Regions from separate parts of the Homo sapiens genome. Here all the other regions are linked to region 2. Evidence: fine-mapped expression QTL. A gene starts in region 2. Each other region holds a variant in brackets. All regions are shown on one strand. Distances are between the middles of the regions. Region 1 has its middle 27 kb from the start of PPP1R14C. Region 2 holds the start of PPP1R14C (protein phosphatase 1 regulatory inhibitor subunit 14C). Region 3 holds the start of RAET1L (retinoic acid early transcript 1L). Region 4 overlaps PPP1R14C (protein phosphatase 1 regulatory inhibitor subunit 14C).

Region 1 (5,146 bases), 26 kb after region 2:
CGGCCCTCAACTCCAGCCTCCCACTCCCCGCACTGACTGTCCCTTGCTCCCTGAAGAGCTTCCTGAGTGATACAGCCTCTGCATTGAAGTGTTGACATGCGCTTCATTGTGAAACTATATTTACTCAGGTGCGATTTGTCACTTTCTTTTGATTCCAGGCATGCAGGTTCTGAGCAGAGAATCTAGACTCTGGCCTCCTCTGAACTTGCACCAGGCCCCAGTTGCCTGGCAGCCCCTTGTCTATGCCAGCACTGCCTTCCCCAGGCTGTGCCCGCAGGGCCCCCAGGCAGGGAGTGAAGCAGACGCGTGCGCATGTTAAACACAGGCACATTCTTCACTTCCACCAAGAACTACTCAGATCCCACGCTGCCAGCTTTCCAGGTTTCCATGAAAATTCAGATTTTAATGTGAAAAAACTTTTAAATGTTGACAACTAAATAAAATTTTTAAAAGAGACTGTGCAAGCAAAACAATGGATGGGTGTGAGCCCTATGTAGTCGTGAGCTGCAGTTTACCCTCTGCAGCACCTACGCTGTCTCCAGGTGTCATTCCCGGCAGCCCGCCCACGAGGACATTCACTTGTAAGGGAGGAAAATGTCCTTCTGCTGTCTGAGGGCTTCCAGCTGGGACTGACATAAGACAGATTAGCTGGACAAAAGCACACAAATTTGATTTGTGTGCAGTGGAAGCCCTCACAAGAAAGATGAAGACCCAAAGAAGCGGCTAAACCTATGTGCTTACATATTACATTGGACAAAGAATAACAATTGCAGAAAAGTAACTGAAATATATGGGAGACTAAAGAACAATAACGGTTATTTTAACAAGATCTGTTTGTGCAGATTTCTCTCAGCCTCAACTTCCGTTCTCTGCTGAAAAGAATGTTTCTCTTTGCTGGTACAAGATGGTCACTTTTTTTGTTTTGTTTTTTGGAGACGGAGTTTCGCTGTTGTCGCCCAGGCTGGAGTGCAATGGTGTGATATCAGCTCACTGCAACCTCTGCCTTCCGGGCTCAAGCGATTCTCCTGCCTCAACCTCCCCAGTAGCTGGGACTACAGGCACCCGCCACCATGCCTGGCTAATTTTTTATATTTTTAGTAGAGACAGGGTTTCACCACGTTGGCCAGGCTGATCTCGAACTCCTGACCTCAGGTGATCCACCTGCCTTGGCCTCCCAAAGTGCTGGGATTACAGGTGTGAGCCACCACGCCTGCCCAGTGGTCACATTTTATATGGGTATTTTATCCCCTGCTTCTGAAAACAAACAAAAAAAGATCAGAGTGCCCTTCCCACACCTGCTTTTTTCCAGTGTTTTTAACTTAAAATAGTTAATTTTGAGTGAATAGCAGCATATTTTGGGGTGGCGCATCCTGAACTCCTTCCCCCGCCACGAGGCTGTGCTTCCTCCCCTATAGGCCCTACTGGGTTTCACAGGTGCATGGAGCCACTGTTAAGATGTGTGTCCCTCAAGAGTGGCAGAGGCCTTGGGGGTGTGGCGGTCCCTCTGATTGCCACGTGGATAGGCAGGGTCTCAGCAGATGACGGCTGGAGGAGGTGAGAAGGCGGAGCGTGGAGCGTCTTGACAGGGTGGAGGGGAAGCTGGCATCAGATGTAGCCAGGTGTCCTGAATAGTTGGGGGCGAAGGCCGGGCGAGGTGGCTCACGCCTGTAATCCCAGCACTTTGGGAGGCCGAGGCAGGCGGATCACGAGGTCAGGTGATCCAGACCACGGTGAAACCCCGTCTCTACTAAAAATACAAAAAATTAGCTGGGCGCGGTGGCGGGCGCCTGTAGTCCCAGCTACCCGGGAGGCTGAGGTAGGCGAATGGCGTGAACCCGGAAGGCGGAGCTTGCAGTGAGCCGTGATTGCACCACTGCACTCCAGCCTGGGCGACAGAATGAGACTCCATCTCCAAAATAAATAAATAAATAAATAAATAAATAAATAAATATAGTTGGGGGCCAGTGGTGAGAAGGGGGTGGTCGGTTGAACAAGGGTGGTGAGAACAGTAGACCAGAGACCCTAGAAAGGATGTGCTGGGAGAGAAGCCTCAACGGAAAAAGACCAGTAAAGACAAGGCCACCCGCTCGCAGTTCCACCCAAGGCTTCCCCTTGACGTCCAGGTCTCAATGGAGAACTCCTGGATGGCCTTTGGGGCCGCTGGAGAAAAACAGCAGTCCCCCCAGATGCTCCCGGTGGCTCCTGGTTGTGACTCAGAGCCACCTTTTGGGGCAGGCCCCAGCATCTTTCAAGGGAAGAAGCACAGATTGGTTTCCTGCCCGGGCAGCCCCATGAGGTTTGCCTCCCAAAGGCGTTTGTGGGATTGGCCTCCTGGGAGCCCGAGAGGAGCAAACACTTGTAGAATTTGTTCATT[T/C]CTCTCATTGTAAGTTTCTGTTTGATGAATTCCATGTTCCCAGGAAATGCCCTCGGCACTTTCAATAACACAATAGCTCTTGTTGAGGTAGGGGGTGGGGGTGAGGGACAACTTTGTAAAGCCCCTTATTGACACCATGAATGGGGAAGGCAGTTGGCACCATTCCTTCCCAGAACTGGGGCCAGTCTGAGCAGGCCAGCCCTGGGGAGCCAGAGAAGCGAGGCAGGAGCTGGGGGAGCACACAGCTGGCCCTGCCCAGGCCCAGGGGCTGAACTCTATCCACAAAGCCTGACTTTGTGGATAGGACGTTAGGCCAGAGAAGTCCAGGCCCAGGCAGGCCCGGTGTTGACTGTTGACCCTCAGAGAGGAACTCAGCTTCCAAGGAGGCTCAAAGGACTGGCATCCTCTTGTGTCCATTAGCCCCTGGTAAGAAGTGACAACGTGCTAGCAGCCCTCGCTCACTCTTGGTGCCTCCTCGGCCTCAGCGTCCACTCTGGCCGCGCTTGAGGAGCCCTTCAGCCGTCGCTGCACTGTGGGGGCCCCTCTCTGGGGCTGGCCAAGGCCGGAACAGGCTCCCTCTGCTCTCAGGGAGGTGTGGAGCGGGAGGCGCCGAAGCCAGCCGGGGCTGAGCGTGGCGCTTGCAGGCTGGTGCGGGTTCCGGGCTGGCACGGGCTCACGGGGCTCCCTCACTAGGCTCAGCCGGCCGGCGCCTGCTGGGCTTGATCCGGGACAAGCTCCCTCTGGGCTGCTGGAGTGCCTGGGCTAGGTGCTGCGAAGTCCCCCGGCGAGTGCCATTGAGAGGTGAAGCCAGCTGGGCTCCTGGGCTGGGTGGGGACTTAGAGAACTTTTCTGCCTAGCCAAAGGATTGTAAATGCACCAATCAGCACTCTGTGTCTAGCTAAAGGTTTTGTAAATGCACCAATCAGCGCTCTGTGTCTAGCTAATCTGTTGGGGACTTGGAGAACTTTTGTGTCTAGCTAAAGGATTGTAAATGCACCAATCAGCACTCTGTCAAAATGGACCAATCAGCTCTCTGTAAAACGGGCCAATCAGCTCTCTGTAAAATGGACCAATCAGTAGGATGTGGGTGGGGCCGGATAAGAGAATAAAAGCACTCCACCTGAGCCAGCGTCGGCAACCTGCGGGGGTCCGTTTCCACGGTGTAGGAACTGTTCTTTTTCTCTTCACAGAAAATCTTGTTGCTGTTCACGTTTTGGGTCTATACCAACTTTATGAGCTGTAACACTCACGGCGAAGGTCTGCAGCTTCACTCCTGAAGCCAGCGAGACCACGAACCCACCAGAAGGAAGAAACTCCAAACACATCTGAATGTCAGAAGGAACCAACTCCCGACACACCATCTTAAGAACTGTAACACTCACTGCAAGGGTCCGTGGCTTCATTCTTGAAGTCATCGAGACCGAAAACCCACCAATTCCGGACACACTGGGATTTAGAGAAGTGACCAGGATTTCTTCAGACCACCTGAGGCCATTGGCAATGGACACCTAGCCACGTTTAACCTTTTCACACAAAGTGAGCATCAGTAGACTAACCCTAGGAGGTTTCGGGTGGACACTGACAGGTGTTGGGCATGTCCTTATAACTGGAATTATTGACAATATCTTTCAAAAACTATCTGTGCAACAAGGAGCCAGGTGAAGATTTGGCAACTACAGTACCTCGCAGATTCAATCAAAGTCGATGAAGTATGTCTTCTTGCCTAAATAACCCAGTGTGGTTTTGAACGCTGAATCCATTAACCAAGTAGATCCTTCCACTTTCATTCTCTCTAAATTGTGTATCTTCATAGCAAATGATTTCCTTTTGAGATGACTTGTGTTCTTTAACTTTACAGGAAAGATGTGCAGTAGTTCCCGTGTTCCAAAGTTTCACTTTCCGTGCTTCTAGTTACCCACTGTCATGTACAATCCAAAAACATGACCTATGATAGGTGGCTTTGAGAGAAAGAAAGAGGCCACATTCACGTAATTTTTTTTTTTTTTTTTTTTTTTTTTGAGAAGGAGTCTTGCTCTGTCGCCCAGGCTGGAGTGCAGTGGTGTGATCTCAGCTCACTGCAAGCTCTGCCTCCCTGGTTCACCCCTATTCTCCCACCTCAGCCTCCCAAGTAGCTGGGACTACAGGTGCCCGCCACCACGCCCGGCTGATTTTGTTTTTGTGTTTTTAGTAGAGGCAGGGTTTCACCATGTTAGCCAGGATGGTTTCGATCTCCTGACCTCATGATCCGCCTGCCTTGGCCTCCCAAAGTGCTGGGATTACAGGCGTGAGCCACCGCCCCCGGCCCACGTAACTTTTATTACAGCATATTGTTATCATTGTTTTATTTTATTATTAGTTGTGGTTGTGAATCCCATACTGTGCATAGGTGTATGTGTACAGTTTAGGAAAAAACACAGTATATATAGAGCCCAGTATTATCGGCAGTCTCAGGCATCTACTGGGGATCTTGGAGCGTATCCCCCACAGGTAAGGGGGACTACTGTATACACTTCATATATTTGCTTTTTTAGAAACATCTTCTAGAGTAAATGAATGAATCCTTACAGCCTTTTACATCGTGTGTTTCATCCTCCTTGCCTGCAAAGCAACGCAGAATTTCTGCTAATTAAGGTAGCTCTAAATGTGCTGTTTAGAACTGTAAAGATTAATTGTAGTAATTATGCTTAATTGTGCCAGTGGGTAAAGGTAGTGGGGAGGACGGGTGGAAGGGGAGGGGAAAAGTCAGTGTCTCTGCCCTCAGCTGGGGGAGGC
Region 2 (5,146 bases):
AATGGAGAAAAAAAAAACAGTATGAAATAAATGAAAATTAACTGGATTCTACAGAGGCAGGACTGAGCACATCCACTCATCCAACAGTAATCCCATCTACATCAAATAATGTTTCTTTACAGAGTTTTGCCAACTTCCTATAAAAATCTCATGAATACTTCTTATGTTTGCCAGTTTTTATTTATGCAATTAAATTAGCTTTTTGTAAGAGCTGGACTGGAGAAACAACACATTTTTACAACCCCATTAGTCATACAGTCAAGCTTCATTATATTATAATCATTTATCAGTAGTCAGTAACGAGTATGCTGTTTTCTTGTGCAATGAGGGTGTTTAAGAAAACGTGTCTTCACAACAGGCCATGAAATGTGTCAAATACAGAACACCCGACATTAGTGGTAAAGCCTGTGAGTTCATCTGGTTGTCATCTCTGTTGAAGAGCACAACAGTTGAATGAACACAAACCTAGCTTTAGCTTAGAAGCCACATTCTTAATTATTAACCCCTTCATGCTTCCACCCTTTCCAAACTCCACTCCCTTAAGAGGAGGTCACTTCATTTAGAATTAATAACTGTTATTCAAGATGCTCATGAGAGATCATTTTGGCTTCAGTCGTTTTGCTGCAGTTTATTCTACATATTTCTCCCTAAATCAAATGTATACACGTCCCTGAGACTTGTGTATGACCTTAGTCCCTGGACCTTGGGAAGTCACGATGTCGTGGAGGAGAGGGGAGCTGGGAGCCTGAAGCTGACAGATCCCGGGATCCCGCAGGCCCCCCGCAGGGCTCCCGCCCTTCCACCGAGGCACCCGTCGAGGTTGCCCCAGATGCTCATTCTGCGCCCATCAATGGGAGTAACTGAGCTTAGAGAGGAAAAACTACGGCTTCAACAAAGCACAACGTGTGCAGCTCTGATAATGCAGGGCGGAATTATGGAGACACCGTCGGGGCTGGCTGGAAAGCGGAAAGCGTTCCATCTCAGGATTTTCACGGGGAATTTCAAGAACCAAGGGGGCCTCTGAGATCCCCAGAACCTCTCCTTTCCACGAGGCAGCTTCCTTCCTTCCCTGCTCGTTCTCCACAAAAATCAGGGCTGCCCGGATCCCAGCAGTGAGCGCTGCTCTCTTTGGCTGCTGTATCCCCAACCGCTGCTGAGGCGCAGCTGGAGTGAGCCCCTCCGAGCCCCGCTTTGCGCAGCTGCAGCTGGAGCCCAGAGGCGCCCGGAGCTCGGAGAAAAGCACTGTGCTCCGCGGGACCCAACCCTCCCCACGGCCACCAAGGGGGCCCGCAGATCCCCGGGCACCGGCAGCCGAACCCAGACAGGGGCGTCCCAACCGCTGAGCCCGACGCCAGAGGGCACCGCGGGGGAGAGAAGGCGCCGCGCCTCGCTCCTGGCACTTGGTCCCCGGGAGTCAGGGACATGCGCGCCCCGGAGCTGGAGCCCGGGAAAATTACTGCGCGGGCACAGAGGAGCTAGAGAGGTCCCCGACCCTCCCAGCCCCGCGCCCAGGTACCTCGCAGCCGTAGAGCTGACCCAGCTGCTCCACGATCCATTCCTCCAGCACCAGCCGCTTCCGAAGCTCCTTACGATCGTATTTCACTGTCACTTTTCCCTGCTGGTGTCGCCGCTGCTGTTGCTGCTGAACCTGCCCTGCAGCGGCCGCCGTGGCCACGGGCGCCGAGTCCTCCCGGGAGGAGCCTGAGCCGCTGCTGGAGCCGGGGCTGCCACCGGCGCCACCCCGGGGGCTTTGGAAGAAAACCCGTGCGCCGCCGCCGCTGGCCCCGCCGGCCGTCTCGCTGCTGCCCGTCGCCACCGACATGTCCCCGCGCGCCCGAGCCTCAGTGCGGCCCGGAGGAGGGGCGGGCGGAGCGCGCCCGGCGCCGCTACCACCTCCGGCCCGGCAGCCGCATGCGAAGGGCTCCCCGGCACCTGCTCTGCGCCGCGCGCGCCCAGCCGCCCGGCTGCTCTGGGAGGGCGGGAGGAGCCGCGGCGAGAGGGAGGAGGGCGGGGAGGACGACGGGGCGGGGACCGCAGCCTTAAAGAAGCCGCCGAGGACCCTCTCGGTCCAGCCCCCAGAGGCGGGATCTGGCGCCTGCGGCAGAGAGGGCCCGGGGCGTGGGAGTCTCCGCGGGGCGGGAAATGTGTGCGCCTAGACACGGGAGGTCGCCGATGTGTAGACTCCGGAAGGACGGGCGTGGGGCGGGGTGCCAGGGGATGCTCCTGCGCGGGTGTCCGTGGCCTCTAGTCTCGGAGACAGGGACTCACGCTTCTCCCGCAATCCCGGAGCGCAGGAAACGCGCCGCCTCTCGGGGCCTCCACCTGGCGCGGCCCCGGGCAGGACCCGCAGCGAAGGGGACACAGGAAAGGACCGCGCCGCAGGCTCCCCCAGGAGGTTTTCCTAGCCCCACCGTCTCCTCTGTTGGCTGGGTAGCGTCCCCTCCCCTCCAGCCCCGCCCCACGGCTCCAAACACACATTCCTATTCATGCCACGATGGATGCCACTTCCTCTCTGGATTGTGAGAAACATCGAAGAGGCGATGTTTGTGCAATAAGGCAGTCACGGCGCTTGAGAAATTATTTCCAGACCAATGTTTTCTTTCCTTACTAAGCGTCTGCTTAATCATGGGCACAGCATTCGGATATCTTCGTATCCAAAGGGCAGAAAGCGTGACGGCGCTCAGGCAAGGCGTCTGGGGGCATCCAGACAGTAAACATTTCTCTAAGAGGGTCGGCGACAGGGTCCTGGTTTCACATTTCTAGTGTTGCGTCCCGTGCACTGCCAGCTTTCTCTCCATCCCATTCCAAACAGCCCCTTCCACCCAGGAGGGCAACAGCACTGCCTGACTCTACTGCAAAACATCACAGCCTAGTAGTTACACATGAAGGAGCTTCTCAGAAGGGTTAGGACAATAAGGTGGGGAGGGAAGTTGTAAACAGAAAACTGCATGTGTAAAATTAGGGAGACACTAACATATTCTTCTTGTACACAACAATACATTCCTGTTCAGGAACTGATAGAAACCACAGAGACGTCCGAATGAATACAAGTAAGCGGCTTTTAGTAACGGTTTTGTTTTGTTTTGTTTTTTGAGACGGAGTCTCTCTGTTGCCCAGGCTGGGGAGCAGTGGCGAGATCTCGGCTCACTGCAACCTCTGACTTCGGGGTTCAAGCGATTCTCCTGCCTCACCCTCCTGAAGAGCTGGGATTACAGGCTTTCGCCACCACACCAAGCTAATTTTTGTATTTTTAGTAGAGACAGGGTTTCACCATGTTGGTCATTCTGGTCTCGAACTCCTGACCTCATGATCCGCCCGCCTGGGCCTCCCAAAGTGCTGGGATTACAGGTGTGAGCCACCGCGCCTGGCCATGAACTTTTTTTGTTTGTTTGTTGTTGTTGTTGTTTTTAAATAAAAGAGCCCTAAAGGTTACTGGCAGCTACTCAAAGAAGTTTCTCAGAGATAAAATAGATACCAAGTCAAATTCCTCGGAACACTTTCCTATGATGGAGAAGATCCTGTGTGGGGTTCTAGACTGACACTACAAAGACAAAATAAAAGTAACCAGCAGGTTTCTCCTGGCGCTTCAGGCTCTGCGATCCACCAGCGCCCAGCTCTGCTCTACCCAGGCTTAGGATCCATTGCCTTTGTACCCTCAGTCTGGGGTTTTCCAGTGAGAGCCTGAATAGGGATTTTCCCAAAGTGTTCCATGCCTGCGGCTCTTCACAGGGACATGTCAAGCCTCACAATGTGAAGGGGAAGGATCTGCGGAGATTGAAATAGGGTGGCTGGTGTGGGGCCCTGGACTCCTGCCATAATTACAAAGGGGTCAAAGCTGAACGATCTCTGCCCCGCTAGAAGAGGCCAGCTGCCCTTTAGAAGATGGGTTTTGCACCGAGCCTATCAGGGACAAGGGAGATGAATTACCTTGATTGCCCCTAGAGACCGATGACCAGTCTCTGCACCACCTCTGCCCCTCTGCCTTTAGGGTGGGTCACTGTAAACCCCGAACACACAGCCAAGAGAGTGACCACCTCAAAATGGAACTCTGTCTGCAAGGAGGAAGGGAAAGGAGGGCAGGAACCAGCCCCAGCATCTCCCACACAGAATCAGCTTATATGGCTCCAGACATCTGGCCAAGTCCGCTAGCACCAGCTTTGACCAACTGCACTAATCAGGAGAATGCAAATCAGAACGAAAACAGCTTAAATGTTATTAACAAAGGAGAAACTACATAAAATCTCTACCTCATTCTGGCCCTGGGACCTGACAATACCTATTGTGCCATCCCACAGTTTGGCAAAGTCTGGGGAATTCCAACTCCTTTCTTTAAGTCTTTGGACAACGAAATCAGTCATTCAAGGATAACGTCAAATAATTTTAAAAAATTCACTAAGTTCTTTCTGAGAAATTCTGATGTCAATTTTTTTCTCACAGCATAAGATGCTTTTTCCTTTATGCTTAAAACTCAATTTTCCCTTACAACTCCAAAATGACAGATACTAAAAGACATGGGTTTTAAGCATCTTGACTCACAGAAGAAAATCCAGGAAATAGTCTCTTTCCACAGGTACGCTGGCCTTCAGATGTTCAAGTGAGTCACCTTGACTGGCAAATAGAATTGAACCAGGGTTCCTCTTTCTTTAAATCCATTTGCTCCACCCAGTACGTAATTTATATTCAAAGTGAAGTCCATATCATCTCCTCTACCCCCAGACACACACACTTCATTCCAGGTTTGAATAATCAAAACTTAATGGCCTCATTTTGACAGATAGAAATACTGCTTTTGCAGATTTCAAATATTGAAGCCAAAATATTTAGGAATAAAGGAATTTTTCCTAGTCCAGAGACCCTTTACATAGCTGACTATTTAAATTCGGCAAAACCAGTGGTATTTCTCATCTACAAAACCAATAATATATACATTTATTCAAGGAAAACATTTTTATTTCTAGCCTATTTAGTCAAGTGTTTTTAGGTGCTGGTTAATCTAAGACAGTGAATAGCTTTCAGTGAATTGAATGGTCCGGAATCAACTTTTACCTGAAGGCAATTACTCCCTGCTATGAGAGGGCAGCCTAAGGATGTTTCATTTGAATCTTTTTCTTCGTAGTTTTGTGTTTTCTTAGCTTGGTTATGTTTT
Region 3 (5,146 bases), 120 kb after region 2:
CCCGTGTGTCTGTTGTCCTCCAGACCACCCTCCACATGGCCCCTCCTGGACAGAGGCTCTAGTGCATCAGGCCAGAAACTTCTAGGCTCCTGTGTCCCTGCACAGTCACAGAGGGGCTGCTATCCCATCCCCCTGTGCAGAAGCAGAGACAGTCCCTGGGCTTGGTCTAGGCCTCCTCCCCTTTCCCGCAGCCTCAGGGCTCTGGGGATTGCTGGTCACCAGGTGTGCATCCTCCCCACATGACAACTGTGTGGAGAAGAAGGTCTGTGTCTATTTTACTCATTTAATAGGGAGAAGGCTGAGTGGCTGGGGGCAGTGTGGGACTCAGGGGCTCTGCCCATTCCTTATCCCAACAGCCAGGGATCGCTGGGCCCCCCACCTCCCTCTGCCTTCTGCCCACAGGTCTAGATGCCTTCATGGTGACTAAGACAAGGGGGCACTTGGGGTTGCCCCTTTGATAATGAGTCCAGTGACCATCTAGGGGCTGAGCAGAGGTGTGGGTGCAGCCATGGATTCAGGTGTGGTTGGCCACGGATTGGTGTGCTGGAAAGTGAACCCCACACGTGTGTAGACTCCTCCCTCGGCTCCTGCTCTTCGTGGAAACACAATTGATTACATGATTGAGCAAGTTGTTCACTAGGTCTTTTTAGGAAGGGATGTAGTATATTCTCAAAGACCTCATGCTTCTAGCAGAGAGGCAAAGAAATGTGTGAGCAATTGTCACACAGGGAGATCTGGATGCACCCACTGTGAACCCAGGTCTCAGGGAGCAGGAGGGTGTTCTGTATTGTGGGAACATGCAGGACACACATGGGAGGGGGTATTTGTGCCCGGCTTTGAAGGATGGCTGGCTCTTTGCCCAGGGGGAAGAGGCCAGCAGAATGCGCTGACAGTTGGGAACCACTAGGAACTTTCAGTTGAACCTGCTCTGCTGAGCCCCCTGTGCCATCGGTGGACCTGGGCCAGGGCGGCTGCTGAACTGGGAGCTCAGAGGTAATCTCTCTGAGGAGCTTTCTAAATCAGCAAGCGTGTCACAGGTTGAGATTCTAGGGATGAGGTCCTCAATGCTGTCCTCGATTTTAATGAGCAGCCTTTTGGCCAGTCTGCACTGGGTGAAGCAGAAGCAAGACATAAATTGTTAAGATAATTTTTAAAGCTGCTTAATTTTGGTAAAAACATAGAACATAGAATTTACCATCTTCACCAATTGTTTACTATACAATATGTTGTTTTGAACCTCTGAAACCCTACCTGCTGTTTCTGTAATAAAACCTAGCCCAGGCCGGGCACGCTGACTCATGCCTGTAATCCCAGCACTTTGGGAGGCCGAGGTGGGTGGATCACCTGAGGAAAGGAGTTTGAGACCAGCCTGGCCAACAAGGTGAAACCCCATCTCTACCAAAACTACAAACAATTCGCCGGGCTTGGTGGTGGGCACCCGTAATCCCAGCTACTCCAGAAGCTGAGGCAAGAGAATCGCTTGAACCCAGGAGACAAGGCTGCGGCGAGCCGACATCGGGCCGTTGCACTCCAGCCTGTGCAATAAGAGAGAAACCCCATCTCCAAATACATAAATAGATAAAGAAATAAAAAATAAAACCCAGCCCGGACTGTAACCACGCCCACCGGGGACTGGGGAAGTAGTGGAGGGGACGCGAACAGGCCCATGGCTGTGCCCAGGGCGGGGTGAGCCAGGGACCCCGCGGCGCAAGCGGAAGGAGGGAGAGTGCCGCGGACCCAGGCGGGGACAAGGAGACGCCGAGGCCGCTGAATATTCCTCTGCACGTTTCTTCACCATTAATAAAAAATGCTATAATGATTAAATGAGTCTGTCGTGGAAGGAATCGTGTCCTGGCAGGAGTGGGGCCCGGGCACGAGGCCACCAAGCTGCCGGAGCGGGTGAAGAAGGGAAGGGACACTAGCATGGAAACTGGATTTCGTCCAGACAATGAAACGAAGAGGTGGAACGCGCCCAGTGACTACGCCCAGTAGCATTAAAATCTGGCTTTTCAGAA[T/C]CGAGGTGACTCATTCCCCGGTACATTCCCCAGTAACTAACAGTATATAAGCCAGCCTTTCAGCACAGAGGTGATTTCATCTTCCAGGATCCACCTTGATTAAATCTCTTGTCCCCAGCCCTCCTGGTCCCCAATGGCAGCAGCCGCCATCCCAGCTTTGCTTCTGTGCCTCCCGCTTCTGTTCCTGCTGTTCGGCTGGTCCCGGGCTAGGCGAGACGGTGAGCTGGTGGATGGAGCCTAAGCGGGGCGGGGGCCAAACCTGAGGGACTGTGGACTGCAGCGGGTTTCAGAGGAGGGAAGGCTTCTGGAAGGACAAGGGAGATCTCCCCGAACTGCGCCCCCAGCTCAGTTCCCCTCCTGGGCTCCTTCCCGCCGGGTCCACTCCCCAAGGCTGTTCTTGCCCCAGTAGGGGCGAAAAAGAGCAGGGTGAAAACGAGGCTGGCAGGAGGGTGGAGGGGCCAGAGGGCTGCGAGGGCTAGGTGGGGCCCGGATTCCTAGTGCAGCCCGGCAGTCCCACCCGCCTTTCGGAAGGAGAAACCAGAGCCCCCCCGGGAACAGAGCTGGGGTCAGGACTGGGTGAAGGGGGGTACCACAGGGATACAATCACAGACGCCCCCACCAGCCACAAGCCTGCTCTGCTCTCACCTGCTCTCTACCACACAAACCCTCCAGCACCCCCAGGACTCCCTGCCTTTGTTTTCCCCGCACTTTTCCTGTAGACACTCACCTGCACCCAGGGGCTCAGCAGATACCCGCCACCCCTCCCCTCACCATCCACTGCCACCACCCAGGTCACATCCTCTTACTGCCCACCTCAGCCCAGCTGGTCACCCCTGAGGTCTCCCCATCCATGAAGGGTACCTCACCACCTCCTACACCACGTCGCACCTTCTGCCTCTTGCCTGAGGACACACCCCAACAAACACACCCCAAGCTCCCCTCAGAACCTGTGCAGGGGGGATGGGAAGCACCATTTCCTCCAGGATGACCCTGGGAACTCTGGTGAGTAGAGGCACCCACTTCTGCCCTTGGGGCCCAGACCGCCTGTTCTTCCTACGGGGGTGTCAGCGTCATAGAGAATAGTCACTGTGTAGACAGGGGTCAGCAAACCCTTTCTAGAAAGGGAGGAAGGATGCCCTGTGATCTTTGCAGGCCATGGGTTCTCCGTCTCTGTGTCCAGTCCTGTCCCTTTGTAGAGCAACAGCAGGCAATGGCAACCTTCAAAGAGGGGGGACCAGATTTGGACCCTGTCCTAGGTTGCTGATCCCAGATCAGGGGATTACAGTGTCCCAGTGCCCCATCCCCTAGGGTGTCATCTCCAAGTGATGTCTCTGATGTCAGTTGGAAAGTAGAAGGTGGCCCTACCTTGCCTGTGGCTTCTGGGTGGTGTGGATGTGATGGGAGTGGGGGTCCCATAGTTGGGGGCTTATTCTCCCCTCCTTTGTGCTGAGTGGCATCCATGGGGACCATCAGGTACCCTCCCTGAAGCCTCAGGTGTGAGCTGAGGGTGAGTGGGTGCAGCCACGTGGTGTCCTGGGGATCAGGTCCAACTGCTTGTGCAACTTCTTGGTTCCCGGTGGCCCTGCTCCTGCCCATCCCAGAAGAACCACCTGCATCTTCTCACTGCTGGGCCTATCTTCCTAATGACCTAGAGGGCGAGGAGCCCACCAGTAATGGGCAGCTCTGAGGCCTTCAGGAATAGGCATCCCTAAGCTTCATTCCATTCTGGTGCCTTGTCATGGGGCCTTCTTTATATGCATGGCAAAAGGCCCCATCTCTGCCAAGGTGCAGTACTCTACAGGAGCCACTGCTTAATGTTGCGATTTCCTTGCTGTGAGTGGCATTGCCTTGTCTCTGAATATTCACATGGAATCTCTGTTGTGATTCTCCAATTAGACATTGTGACCACATGTACCTCTAGGATCTTAGGGGGTCTTGGGTCATTGGGCACTTAAGGTAGGTCCAGCCTCGCTCATCATTCATGGATTGTCTATGGCTGCTTTTGAGCTTCAACAGCAGAGTTGAGTAGTTACAATGGAGAATATATTCCCTGAACACCTTTACATGTTTACAAAATTGCCCTTCACAGCAAACTCTATTGGCCATAAATATCTCTGGAGAAGGCCACAAGGACTCACTGTCCTGGCTGCAGGGTTAAAGGGTCCTTCCTCACTAGAAACTGGTGTCTTCTTATAGTCATGGGTTCAGGGTCTGAGAAGTGGCTTCATTCTGCAAATTAGGCAAAGCAGCCTCGTTCTTGATGGACTGGCTACTTTCAGCCTCCTGATTTGGTTTATCTCTGTTTCTTGTAATTATTTAAATCCAGCAGTATCCGGGGTGGGTTTCCATCTCTTTTGGACTTTGGACCCCTTTGTTCTATGAGCCATGGGCATAACTTTGTATAACTGAGGTCCCCAGCTGGCATTGTGACTTCTCTAATCATTTCCATCATTGCACCCTCCTTGCTCCTGACAGTTGACAGCCTCCACCTGGAATTTGGAATTTCAGAATTGTTCATCCCATTACTCTGGGAGCAGATTTCAGGAACAGCATCTCCTACCCCCAACCCTGGCCTTCAGCAATAGGCATCCCTAAGCTTCATTCCATTCTGGTGCCTTCTCATGGGGCCTTCTTTATATGCTGGGTAAACAGGAGTCCTCCAGGTTTCCCATAAGCACAGTGGATGGACATTGTTCTGGATTTTCACACTTAGACCCCTCTGGCATGGGCACTTCTCTGAGCCTGTGATCTCTCCCTCCACTACCTGCCTTAGACTTTCAGATTTTCCATTTCTTGCTGTGTGGACCATCTCTTTGTCCAAGGTTTCAGGAAGGCCTCCTCATAGCAGATGCATGCCATCACCAGGGGCTTTGCCAACATGTTACATCCTGTGACCATGATAATTAACTCTTCTTTATCCAACGGGGTTCCATCCTCACTCTGTTCAACCAGCACCAGCATCCACAGGGGTGGACCCACACCCTCTCCCACCTCCCGCAGTCCACGTGGGCTACTGCTGAAGATCCTCTGCCATCCAGGCCCTTCCTCCTCTCTTGCTAGAGAGGCCTGGCACCTTTCTAGCAAGGTCATGTGTTGACTGATGTGGGCAGAGGGGCAGTGGGACATGTCTG
Region 4 (5,146 bases), 60 kb before region 2:
GGGTCACTGCTGATCCAAACCTCAGAGAGCAAACTGGTATCTCAAGAGCTCCATCAGGTACTGTAGTTGGGTGAGCCATTTAGCACTTTGCAAGATCACAAGTACCAAGCTCACACCTATGCAACAGCAGCAGCAGGCCAGTGTGATGGGTGTGTGAGCCACTGACGATGCAGACCAGGTGGTAAGAGAAGTACCCAGGGGCTGTTGGTCCCAGAAGTTCAGTGAGGCTGCTAGACACTGACTAAGCCCAGGCTGAACTGCCTGGGGGCGGCGGCAAAGCAACAAGGAACTAGGCTGAGGAGGTCTTTTCTAGGTCCTGAACCCACCCACCAGGCAGGTTTCTCTTTCCCACCCACCAGGGAAGTTGCCAGTATCACTGGCACCCAGGGCAGGCTTAGTTCGTGCCCCCAAATCTCTCCCCTACATTTAGCAATTCATTTTAGCAAAAATGACTATCTCTGGAGAGATTATCAAAGTGCTCCAGACACAGTTTAACAAAAAAAAAAAAAAGACTCTGAGTTGGAGCAGAGGTTGTGTTCTATGCCCAGCCTTGATCTCAAAGGGCTCAAGAGGCCACTTCCTCCTGCAATGGGAGGACCCTAGGGAGTCTGGTGAACAGAGCACAGCATGGGAAGAAAGCGACTGAAGCCTCCGACTTCCCGTGTATGCCCCAGGCTGCCCTGCTTCTCAGCACAGAGTCGGTCCCTTGGGTAGGGGCCAAGTGGTGTTGTGCCCAGAGCATGGAGTTTGGAGAGAAGCAGACCCAGGTTTCAGTTTCATCTCTGCCTCTGACAACCCGTGAGAGCTGGGGCAGGGTAACGCATCCCCTAACCCTTAGTTCCCACACCTGTAAAATGGGGACTGCTAGCTAATTCTCGGGGCTGGATAGAAATCGGGCACAATCATGCCCACGCACGTTGTGCAAACTCAACAAATGGTGACAGGACCTCAGTGGGTGCTAAGTTGACTGGGCACATCCGATTCCTCTTCAAATAAATAAATATTCCATGTAAATGTCTCTTCCAGGGAATCGTGTACTCCTGATGCCTGAAAATCGTTAAGTGAAGACTTATCACATTACCGATTTGTTCAAAACCACAGCATTCAAAGAGAAAAAAAGAAAAGAAAATGTCAGCAAAAAAACCCAGATGCAGAGCTTCCTGGAGACAATCACACTTTGCTCTGCTTATGAACACTAAACACGCACAGCTGGTTGTTAACAATGCCCCCGTGACGAGAAAGTCGGCAGGTTGGTCCTCGTAAGACGAGTGAAAATAAGTGACGGCTGAGACAGTTGCTAAAGATGGCAAGGACAATCTTCTAAGCCGTGGCATAAACGAGGACACTGAGAACACCTTGAAAGCACTGGACACAGTGGCCAGGCGGCCGCCACCCTCACGGCTCCTGTGCCGACAGCAGCCTCTCTTCTCAGGGCCCTTCTTTCTCCGTGCAGCACCTACATGAAGATCCCCGGAAGGGAGAGGAACACCATGCGGAAGCTACAGGCTTGGCACTGGTCCTGGGCTACAGGCAATGGATAAGAAGACTGGGAAAGAATAAAGGAAGGGCTGGCGCCACCCAAGGACAGAGCAGCAGCAGTCCAGCCTGTCTCTAAGAAGTCACACCTGTCTACGTCTTGCTTGCCATTAATTTAGGGATTGAGCCTGAGCTGTCTCTGATAGAAGATGGTCCACATCCAGATTTGCAGTGGAAAGGCTTAGGGCCAAGCAGAATTCTCTTAGACTGGAAACACTCAAATTACCCGATGATGGAATAAAAGCAGTGGGCAGAAGCCCGTTCTAGCCAATTCTTGGAGAGAAGACGGTTCCCCTGCACTATCAACTGCTCATGACTGAGGCATTCGGGGTTGCTGCAGTGTTAGATTTCCTAACACAGAACACGAAATCCAGACCGTTTCACCTCCTGCCTCGGGAAGGCTCCTAGATCAGCAATGGCCAAATATGTCCAGTACGGGCAGGTGCACAGAAGCCTGAGAAGATGATACGGAAAAGCCGCTTGGAAGACACTGAGAGGAAATTGTGAATCCCATCGCAAGGCCTCCAGCCGGTGAGCAGACACACTGCACTTGGAGTATAAAAGACCATTGCTGATATGGGCCATCAAGCATGAAAAGACACGAAGGACCTTAAATGCAGATCCATAAGTGAATGAAGCCAAAATGGAAAGTTGCCATACGCATGATTCCAACTACAGGACGTTCTGGAAAAGACTAAAATATGGAGATAGTAAAACCATCAGGGATTGCCAGGGGCCAATGAGGAAAGAGAGATGACTAAGGCAGAGCACAGGGCAATTTTCAGGCCAGAAAACCTGTGTGATCTTATAAGGGTGCATCTATATCATCACACATTTGCCAAAACCCAATTAGAGGAAAATGACACACAACCCCAGAACCCACAGGATGTACAACACAAAGAGTGAGTCTGAATGGAAATGATGAGCTTTAGCTAATAATAATGTAGCAAGATTGTCTCAGCAATTGTAACCAAGATACAACACTAATGCAAGATGTTAAGAAAAAGGACAACCGGACTGGAGGGAGGAGAAAGAAAGGGGTAGATGAGAATTCTCTGTGTTTTTGGCTCAATTTTTCTGTAAATCTAAAATGCTTTTAAAAAATTAAGTGATTAAATTAAAACAAAACAAAACAAAAGACCAAGACTAATGTGTTGGTGGTGGCTGAACCCAGGAAGGTGAGGGCCAGGCCTTCCTGTGACTGGCTCTGCTGGTTCTTCTTACAGCCGAGGGCTGGGCAAAAGGTCCAGGTGTGAGTCATACAATGAC[C/G]TTCAGCCAACTGAGGCACACCCAGGTCCTCAGCTTCAGCCCTGAGACCAGGCCAGGCTGTGTGGGAGGGCACCATGGGGACCCTCCCAGAGAAGAGCCTGCAGGGCTGTCCCGGCGGCAAAGGAGCGGCAAAGTCGGCCGAAGCTTCTTCTGCCCAATGGGGACTCCAGCTCCTGGTTGAGAGGAGCCAGGGTTGCTGCTGACAAGACACGGGCCTGCCCCAAACCTAAGAACGGCAAGGGTGCCAATGAGAAAGGGACAAACCTAAGAACAGCAAGGGTGCCAATGAGAGAGGGAGAAGCAAAGCCAGACACCAGGACAGCCTGAGGCAAGGAGGTGTGGGCTTGATCTGGGAAAAGCCAGCCGGAGCCAGGCAGTGCCTCTTCCGTGGGACCCAGCCTGCGTGACAGAGTGGGGGTACAGGGGAGGGACACAGAGATTAACAGAGACTCAAGGCTGGCAAGCCTTGTTGTGGGGTGGGCACCCACCAGGGATGTTCTGCATGAGGATGAGAAACTTGCTAGAACATTCCTTGCACTACCTTCCTCACACCACACAGCAGAGAGGCGAGAGAGGAGCTCACGCTTGATGCAAGGCTACACCAGGGTCAGAGGGCAGGCCCCCGGGGCACACAGGCTCAGCTGCCTTTGGTCTTAGGGAATGAGGCCAGTCCAAAATAAAAAGTCATTTAACCAGAGCTGCCTTGTGAAATGAGCAGAGCAAAGGGCATGCTTCTTTGTAAATTATTACCATAATCGTTTACCTGTAATGCATGTTTATGCAGGCAATGTGACGGTTCATGGAATACTTCACTCCTGACCCCTCCTCTCCCTGTCGCCACCATCCAATCCATCACCATAACTGTCAATTCTATGGCTTACCGTCTCCTGAACCTGCACTTTGTACCACCTCCACTGCCCCCCTAGTGAAAGCTAAATCATCTTTTGCATAAGCTATAGCAGGAGCCTCTTAACTGGCTTCCATAAACTCACCCTCATGCCTCCGCCATCCCAGTTTCCACTCTGTAGCCAGAGTAGCAACTTTAAGAACACAGATCTGTCATTCACCAGCTTAGAACTCACGGGTGGCTTCCTACCAGTCTTAGGACCAACAGTCTTACCTCTGCCTGGAAGGCTTCCCCTGCTGGGCTCCCGGCCTCCTCTCCATTCAATGCCTCACCCCAACTCCCTGAGCTCTAACTCCGCTGGTCTCCTCCGATCCCTCAGGACACTCCCCAGCCAGGCCTCCACAGGGCCTTTGCACGTGCTGGGTGCATGTGTAGGACACTCTTCTTGTTATCTCGTGTCAGCCATCACTTCCTAAAGCAAAATGTCTTCGCCAGACTTGTGATGAGGTCAACCTCCCAGCCCTGGAAACTTAGAATGCCCTGCACCTCTCTTTCGCTGCACTTTCCACACTCTTCCAATTCACATTTCTCAGTCTGCCTCCCCATACTGGAGGACCAAGAGCAGTGCCTGGGATAGCGCCTGACACATGACCCCGATAATCATTTTGTAAATAAAATAACAAACAATTCCCTGAGGTGAGTATTATCATCATCTCTATTTACAGATGGAATGTCTGAGTATCCTGCCCAATAGGGCCGATCGCTTCCTTAGTTCCAAACCTGGACAATCTGACCTCAAAATGTATGGCCCCTACAACTTGTGCTATGTGCCTTTCAGGATGCAGCATGGCTGGGGAATGATTTCTCCCTTTTGACTTCCGTGACTTTTGGAGCAGCAAGGGAGGAGAGCAGAGCCCTTCAGACATGCGGCTCCAGGCACCCAACACATTCAAGCCCTGGTATCCACAGCCAGCTGGAGCCCAGGAAACTCCATGGAAACTTAGAGGATGACGACAGCTTTCACACACTCAGGGGACCACACTCCTTGTGAGGCAGATATGAATGGATTCAGGCTCTCAGTGAAGACTTGGAGGAAAGAAGCAAGTTTGGGAGTAACTAGCCATTTCTGGAGAACATGTTAATCCCCCAGCTGGAGGTCTGGGCCTCTCCTGTTACAAATGTAGGGGATATGGCTGCTTCTAATCTTGCTCTTCTGCAGACCTGTTACAGAGGAGGCCACAGCTGCACCTAGGGGTGTGTCCAAAGGGAAGAGAGCCAGGGGCAGGGCCATGAGACGCATCACTGTGTCTCCTGCTCCAGTCTCTGCTCAGCAGTGGAAAAGGAGCACTCCCCAGACTGAGAACAGGAGCTGGCTGGTTCACCTTAGGGTGAGGACAAACCTAAGTCTGCAGACTTGGTTAAGGAAGGGTTGGATGCAAGATCACAAGGGAGGGAGAAAAGGGAGCTGTCCCAGAGAGGCGAGTAATTCGGACC

What was found. PIP is the estimated chance that this variant, and not a neighbour inherited with it, causes the effect.
Region 1: its variant is fine-mapped to the expression of PPP1R14C in lung (TOPMed, PIP above 0.99).
Region 3: its variant is fine-mapped to the expression of PPP1R14C in cerebellar hemisphere (GTEx, PIP 0.99).
Region 4: its variant is fine-mapped to the expression of PPP1R14C in esophagus mucosa (GTEx, PIP above 0.99). The same link has a PIP of 0.9 or more in sun-exposed skin and unexposed skin.

The regions. Positions count from the first base shown.
Region 1 is chr6:150,113,842-150,118,987 of GRCh38, reverse strand. No RefSeq gene overlaps it. Among named protein-coding and RNA genes, the nearest start is that of PPP1R14C, 27 kb to the left of the region's middle. The variant T/C (reference allele first, on the strand shown) is at 2,375.
Region 2 is chr6:150,139,869-150,145,014 of GRCh38, reverse strand. It overlaps PPP1R14C (protein phosphatase 1 regulatory inhibitor subunit 14C), which reads right to left and starts at 1,971. Exons shown (of 4, transcript NM_030949.3): 1 at 1,517-1,971. The coding sequence starts at 1,822.
Region 3 is chr6:150,022,474-150,027,619 of GRCh38, reverse strand. It overlaps RAET1L (retinoic acid early transcript 1L), which reads left to right and starts at 2,088. Exons shown (of 5, transcript NM_130900.3): 1 at 2,088-2,233. The coding sequence starts at 2,149. The variant T/C (reference allele first, on the strand shown) is at 2,016.
Region 4 is chr6:150,200,361-150,205,506 of GRCh38, reverse strand. All of the region lies in intron 1 of PPP1R14C (protein phosphatase 1 regulatory inhibitor subunit 14C), which reads right to left. Among named protein-coding and RNA genes, the nearest start is that of PPP1R14C, 60 kb to the right of the region's middle. The variant C/G (reference allele first, on the strand shown) is at 2,806.